2 linked regions of the Homo sapiens genome follow. The protein of the gene in region 2 interacts with the protein of the main gene of each other region in a pairwise test. Each region holds a gene or a part of one and is shown on either strand. Other genes may lie near its edges. The genes, in order: ELMOD1 and THG1L.

The links.
Region 1: the proteins of THG1L (region 2) and ELMOD1 interact in a two-hybrid assay, tested with the Homo sapiens proteins (one large-scale study listed by BioGRID and IntAct).

Annotation. Positions count from the first base shown.
Region 1 is NC_000011.10:107,628,849-107,632,672, reverse strand, and holds part of ELMOD1 (ELMO domain-containing protein 1), read right to left. Parts: intron 2,257-3,824; coding exon 2,111-2,256; intron 1,974-2,110; coding exon 1,945-1,973; intron 1,094-1,944; coding exon 996-1,093; intron 1-995. UniProt on the Homo sapiens protein: Acts as a GTPase-activating protein (GAP) toward guanine nucleotide exchange factors like ARL2, ARL3, ARF1 and ARF6, but not for GTPases outside the Arf family.
Region 2 is NC_000005.10:157,734,096-157,737,919, reverse strand, and holds part of THG1L (probable tRNA(His) guanylyltransferase), read right to left. Parts: intron 3,345-3,824; coding exon 3,175-3,344; intron 2,075-3,174; coding exon 1,986-2,074; intron 34-1,985; coding exon 1-33. UniProt on the Homo sapiens protein: Adds a GMP to the 5'-end of tRNA(His) after transcription and RNase P cleavage. This step is essential for proper recognition of the tRNA and for the fidelity of protein synthesis.

The sequences.
Region 1 (3,824 bases), on a different chromosome or scaffold from region 2:
ATAAAATATATGTTAGAAGGTTTCAAAAAGACCTTTACTATATAAGTAAATCAACCTTTGGTAGCTGAATAGGCAAAAGGCAGCTAATGAACTGAAGCGGCTGCTAAAGAACGCTATAGAGACCAGGCAAAAATGGAGGTTTTGTGATGAGCCCCTAGATAGCTAGTATCCAAAATCCTTCCAAGAGATAGACCTACGCAAGTGTGCTCTGAAATTCCCTTCAGCTACAGTTCCTGTAATTATTAATAAAAGCCTTTCTCAAAGGTAACATCTAAAGTTCTCAGACACGAACATCTAAAAGACAGTTTGATTGTTACCAACCTAAAACCTTCTCTAAATATATCTGCATTTGGAATTTATTCTACCCAGTGTCCTCAGTGCAAAATTTTACTGAAAAATTGCTGTACCCAGTGGAAAATATAAAGCTAATTTTAAATGTCACGAACATTGCCAAATGCATTTTAATACTTCCAAGATGAGAGGAATAAATTATGAAGTTCTAAAGTCTTCATATAAAAACCATTTCTCCTTCCCACACATGCCTGTCTTCTTGACAAGCAGGTAGAAACAGTCTCCAAGATTCTCAGCCTGTCATAAAGTAATATTCATGAAGGAAGTGAAGGACTATTCTAGATGGAACAGAATCAGCTTAAGCACATTTACAATTTGAACATTTACTGTTAGCGTAAAACATAGGCATCAGATAGAGTGATTGTTGATGAATGGGTTCATCTTTCTCTATCGGGGCACTCAACACATTTCTTACATTCTTTGCATCTGAGAAGCATAAGCCACAAAGGAAGTACAAAGTTGCTGCCATTTACAAACATGAAAAAGGTACTTTTTTTCTTTATTCCTCATCTGAAAGTCAAAACATGGCAGATGATTATTTTAGGGAGAGAGGGAGAAAAAAAAAGAGAGGAGACAGAGAAACACTAAACCTGTGGCCATGTGATTTGTGTTCTGTATTTTTGACATAAGAAACATATTCTTACTGTGGATTTACGTCAGGATTAATTTTTTTCAGTTCCATGATATCTTCTATAGTTTTTTCAATAGCGTCGGGGTGAACACTCACAGAAGTCTGCAACAGCTGGAAAACATGTTTTAATCACTTTCCTTTTCATTAACACCAGAGGCTTAATCAGTATCTACTGGGATAGAGGCTTCAAACATTTGCTTAAGCTTCTATATGAAGACTTAAGTTAAAAGCAACAATTGATTTAGCGTACTTGAATTCTAATAAATTTGACATTTTCACGATGGGGGGGGGGGTAGTGCAATTTTCCTGATAACTTTAATCAGGAAAACACATACAATTTTTTTGGTTTTGTTCTTACCATTTTCCTGTTTCAAGCTACCTATATTGAAATGTAATATTTTCATTTCCTCGCCCAACATAGTTTCTATTGTTAAGGGGTATTATGTTTATGACTAAAGAGTGAGGCACATGAGGGAGATAGTCTTCAGGATGTCAAAATTAATAAGATAAAATTATCAAGAATCTTGAAAAAGAAAATAGGTTTTCTTTCTTATATGGATGCTCCACTATGCTACAAAAGCTAGCATAGTGGCTTCTTTGATGTTATTGAAAAATCTTAAGTATAATGTTAAAAATGATTTGGATATTGAGGAAATAGTAGGGAGTTAATACTGTTACTATGTTCAAGGAATATTTATTTTATGATTTGGGAAGAGGTATAAGAAAGGGTTCATTTGACAATGAAGTAATAAGTACTTCACAAACTGCCTAGAAATTCACATACAGTGGCTGTTCTCATGTAAATAGTACAGTGGTTTGTAATGGGCAAATGATTATTTCTTCTCAGTTGGCAGTAGTTTTCCTAGCCAGTGGTATATTTTGGTTTCTTAGAATTTTTACTTCTTATGATAAAGGTAAGCTTCCAAGTGAAAAAAAAGCTGCTGAAAAATAATTTTACTTACCTTACTTTTAGAATCCCTCAGTGATGTTTCTGTGAAAGCAGCAACAAAAACAGTCATTCAAAGATTATCCTTTACACATGGTTTAGAATTACTACACTGAAAGACAACATCGTATCTTCCATCATACCAACTCTACCTTTTGCTTACTTCTTTGTCTCAGGCTTACCGATTTTCATGGTTCTAGAAGCTCCCGGCTTGGTATTATAACAGATCCGTTGTAGTTCACATCTTCCAGTTAGCTTCCTCATTACAAATTTCAGGCAGCGCCACAGAAATTTACAGTAAAAATACAGGCATACCTGGATCAACATTCTGTGAAAAACAAAACACAGCACCCTTCCAATAGAACTCTGGAAGAGAAGAGAAAGCAGCCACCACCAGCAAGAAAAGAAGCCCAGGAGAAAATCAGGGGTTAGAAAAATCACCTTATACTTAACATATGTTTCTAGTCCCATGCTACTTTATTTGCAGTAGCTACACTTACTATGACTGTAAGAAACTCCAGAATTTTCTATTCTAGTAAATCTGATATTCCAACAAACTGAGGATGAAGCATTAGAATCTTTTCTTTTCCCTCCTTTGCCTAAAACCATCTTGGAAGTAAATGAGTACCTTGAAAACAGAATCCTTTAATACTGCTTGTGTTTTAGGAGTCAGCCCTCCCTTTGACGTGGGGGAAGAACATGCTCTCCTCTTTTGCCTCCATGAACAGCCTCTCAGCTTGCCCTTGTCCATTTTCAGCCCCTCCCTAGTGTCCTCCTCACCCTCGACCAATCCCACTGTTTGATTCCTTCCCTTGCTCCCATTCTTTCCTCTTTCCCTCTGCTTTCCCTTAGGCATTGCAGACCTCCTTGAGGACTTGGTTGTGGCCACCTGCCTTTTCTGCTGACCTATCCTAACATTCCCTGGCCTTGTCAGAAGCCCTTCTCATCAGTTCACTGAACAAGCACCCTTGACCTTTGATTTTCCTAGACGTGACGACCTTCCGTGATTTAAATGTTTCAAAAACTCCTCTTGAGAAGTTTGTTCTTGGCTCTTGCTAAAGAAAGTTTTCTTTACTGTACACCCTACCTCACTCCAGCAATACCGCAACAAATGATGAACTATATTGTCACCAGTCATGTGCTTATTCACACATCTGTGGCCCATGTAAGTCCATCTTTTATGATGACTTTTAATTTTAAAAATGTGAGTGCCTACTATTTCATGGTACGGTTCAGAATTTCAAATGACTTAAGCTTTAGTGGTAAAGAGGACTTATTATCCGGGAACTTATATAGTCAACCTATTTTCTCTTTATACTGTACATCCCCAGGAGGCAGAATTATTTATATTACTTCCTTTTGTTGTCATCTGGAAAAGATTTTTCTTTATTCTCAAAAGTTCACTAATTCCTTCCAGTTCTAAAATAAGGTGATGCATGGTCACTCAGATATACTGGAGTAGTTAACTAGTAGCCTCTACAATGTGATCCATCCCTGAAAAAGAATCAAAACCTTGACCGTGTTCCTTTCCTTAAATTGCTCTGGTTCCAATAGCTTCAACAGCCTTGTGTTAAAAATAAAAACTCGAACAGTCTGATTTGCACAAAGGCATGGAGTTTATATCTTATAAATGCAAAGGAAATGGAAAGAAACCATACAAAACAACCAAGCTGCTGCACTGAGATAACATAATGGAATACTTTGCAGGCAACAAGATTATGTCCTAGAATATCTAATAACATGAAAATATCCATGATATGTTTATCAAGTAGAAAAAAGTTAAAAAGAAATATGTATGGGATAATCCACTTTTCATTTAAAAAATAAAACAAAAATTTTAATAGTAATGTATAAAGCAGGATACACAACAAAAATGTTAACAGTGATATTGATTGG
Region 2 (3,824 bases):
CAAAATCTCATTCTTGTCTGCTGCAAGAGTTCCCTGAGAAAATAAAAATAGATATTAAAAGCTCTGCATGTCTTCTTTCTCCCCTAGTGCTACTATCCATTCGACCCACAACCTAAATTTCCACAATCAAGAAGTGGAAGGATTTTATCAAACATCTTATAGTTATTAGTAAATTTTCATCTTAAGGGCAATTATGATCTTACTTAGATAAAATTCTCTCCTATACCAAACACTGGCTTCACAAGTCAAGACTGAAAGGGAGTGGGGAGAATTAATACTAACTGAATACATATTATGTATTTGGTCCAGTAAAACTTAGAAAGGTTATATAAATTCCCCAAGGTTAAAAGGTTGTCCTTATTCTTCTACGAAGAATTGAAATCTGAACTTGACTCTTCCAAACCTGGATATACCTACCAGTATGCCTTTTTTTTTTTTAGACAAAGTCTCACTCTGTTGCCCAGGTTGGAGTGCAGTGGTGCAATCTCAGCTCACTGCAACTGCCACCTCCCAGGTTCAAGCGATTCTCATGCCTCAGCCTCCTGAGTCGCTGGGATTACAGGTGTGTGCCAGCACACCCAGCTAATTTTTGTAGAGAAGCGGTCTCACCATGTTGGCCAGGCTGGTCTTGAACTCCTGACGTCAGGTGATCCACCTACCTTGGCCTCCTCAGAGTGCTGGGATTACATGCGTGAACCACCACACCAGGCCCCAGTTTTCCTATTATTGCTATATAAAAATCTCTATCATTACTATTATTAAAAATGACAACCATTTATTGAGCAAACATAATGTACCAGGCATTGTATTAGTAACTGTTACAGCTGGGCACAGTGGCATGCACCTGTAATCCCAGCTACTTGGGAGGCTGAGGTGGGCGGACTGCTGGAGCCCAGGAGTTCAAGACCAGCCTGGGGAAAATAGCAAGAACCCATCTCAAAAAATAAATAAATAGATAAAATAAAATACAAATAAAAGATCTGTTACAACACATTACCTCACTTCACAGTTAGTCATCCTACAAGTAGCACTGTTATAACAAAAACCAGTATTTATTAAGCACTTACAATGTGCTTCATACGATTCTGTGTTTTACGTGCATCATGCCATTTAATTCTCACCATAAACCTATGAGGTAGAAACTACTATTTTCTACATTTTACCTATAAAGAACTGAGGCAGAAAGGATAAAATTACACAGAAGCATGATGTGAGTAGTTATTATGACATTTATGAAAGTAACAAACTCAGCACGAACTCTTCCTATACACAGAGGTCATAAACCCAAGAAACTACAGGTGCCCAGCAGGGAAAATGGCAATGAGGGAAGAGGCGTGGTGGGACTGACAAAAATTCAGTGCTGGCCAGGTGTGGTGGCTCACTGGCTCACGCCTGTAATCCCAGCACTCTGGGAGGCCCAGGCAGGCAGATCACTTCAGGTCAGGAGTTCAAGACCAGCCTGGCCAACGGGGTGAAACCCTGTCTCTACTAAAAATACAAAAATTAGCTGGGTGTGGTGGCATGCACCTGTAATCCCAGCTACTTGGGAGGCTGAGGCACGAGAATCGCTTGAGCACAGGAGGTGGAGGTTGCAATCAGCTGAGATCACACCACTGTACTGCAGCCTGGGCAACAGAGTGAAACTGTGTCTCAAAAAAAAAAAAAAAAGTCAGTGCTGAAGACGGCAGTCATACACAGTCATACACGGCTTCAGGCAAGTGTTAGCACGTGGGAATGCAGAGCCAGTGCCGTCAATTCCATTTTCCACTAAGAACACAAAGGCTCAGGGAGAAGCAGTAATTCATCCAGGATTACAGACCAAGCAGGCAGCAGAGCTGCTCCTATTATGATTTTTATATCCTTTCAAAACAAAGCTGTACAGGGATCTTAAAAGAAAGAAATGTAAATTTAACAAAAAAAAAGTTATGGGAGAGCCTACAGCGAACTGTCCCCAGTTAAGTATTAATGTAGTAAGATCTTTATACCTGTAATCTCCCTTGGGCTTGTACTGGTGTTAGTCCAGATTGTTGTATAAGTGCCCAGAAAACTGTATTATAAAGATTATTGATGTGACCTGTGAGGAGAACAAAATAGTAATGTTTATATACATAAAATCTTTATTGAATATTCATTCTTCAAGGAATACTAGAGCCCTGACCCTCTCCTCTTTCATAGTAAAGAGATCTCAGAGACATTCAGTGACTTGACCGAAGTCCTACACACGGAACATGGAGGGAAGGAGCAGTAGGGAAAAAACTTCATCCCTAACAACAGTTTTATTTGGTCATTTCAGTTACACATTATACAAATCTGTTAACTTGTGTGTTAATCCTAGGAATACTTTAGAAGTTATTTGATTTATATTATTTCAATCTCTTTTCCAGTTCTTCTGGAAAATTCAAACTAGAACAAGCAAGTAAAAGCCTCACAAACATCATCACAGTCACATAAGGCAAGGGTCACAATTCAAATACCCACTGAGGCCAGCATGAACATAAATGTGTAAAGCAGTGGGTGACCCCAGAGGAACAACAGGGAATGGCAGAGACTATGGCACACTGGCATTTGTGTGTGTGTGTGTGTGTAAAGGTAGCTGCCACTGAACAGGCTTTGTCTAGTACTAAGTAAGAATGCAGATCCAGTATTGCCACATCTGATTTTTTTAAAAAATAGAGATAAGGCGGCTGGGCGTGGTGGCTCACGCCTATAATCCCAGCACTTTGGGAGGCCAAGGCGGGTGGATCACCTGAGGTCAGGAGTTCAAGACCAGCCTGACCAACATGGAGAAACCCCATTTCTACTAAAAAATACAGAATCAGCCGGGCGTGGTGGCACATGCCTGTAATCCCAGCTACTCGGGAGGCTGAGGCAGAAGAATCCCATGAACCCAGGAGGTGGAGGTTGCAGTGAGCCAAGATGACACCACTGCATTCCAGCCTGGGCAACAAGAGCGAAACTCTGTCTTAAAAAAAAAAAAAAATAGAGATAAGGAGTTTTTACGTAAAATTTAATTTTTCAAATACTTTTAACTAATTGAAAAAATATTTAAATACTGCATTCTGTACAACGTATATGTTGAAACAAAGTATATGTGAGCCAATCCTGTATCAGATCAACACCTGTAAGACATGGAATTGGTGGTTTAACTACATGTGTTTATTTGGTGCCACTCACAATCTGCTTGTCGCCAGCTGAGGTAGTCCTTTAAAGTCTGGTTGCTGGGATACACCACGACTCTTCCGTCAAAGCCTGGGGGATACAGAAGGGGCTGGTCCTCAAAGTAATCCCGCCAATAAAACACATAGCTGGAGGCAAACTGGGAGGCCACGTGAGTCATGAACTTACTTGAAAATGTAACGCACATTGGGTGGAGTAAGAAAAAGAAAAATACACGGAATTAGTTCAACACCATGATAAGACCTGTGGGTACCACAGAGAGTACACAAACTGCCCAGAAAGCCAGGAGATAAAATGCATTTGGCTAAGAAACACTATTTTAATACCTTGGTTCTGTATTTTTTTTTCTTTTTTTAGGACAGAGTCTTGCTCTGTTGCCTGGGCTGGAGTGCAATGGCACCATCTTGGCTCACTGCAACTTCTGCCTCCTGGGTTCAAGTGATTCTCCTGCCTCAGACTCCCGAGTAGCTGGGATTACAGGTGCAGGCCACTACGCCCAGCTAATTTTTGTATTTTCAGTAGAGATGGGGTTTCACCATGTTGGCCAGGCTAGTCTCAAACTTCTGACCTCAAGTCATCTGCCTGCCTCAGCCTCCCAAAGTGCTGGGATTACAGGCGTGAGTCATCACACCTGGCCAGTTATGTAT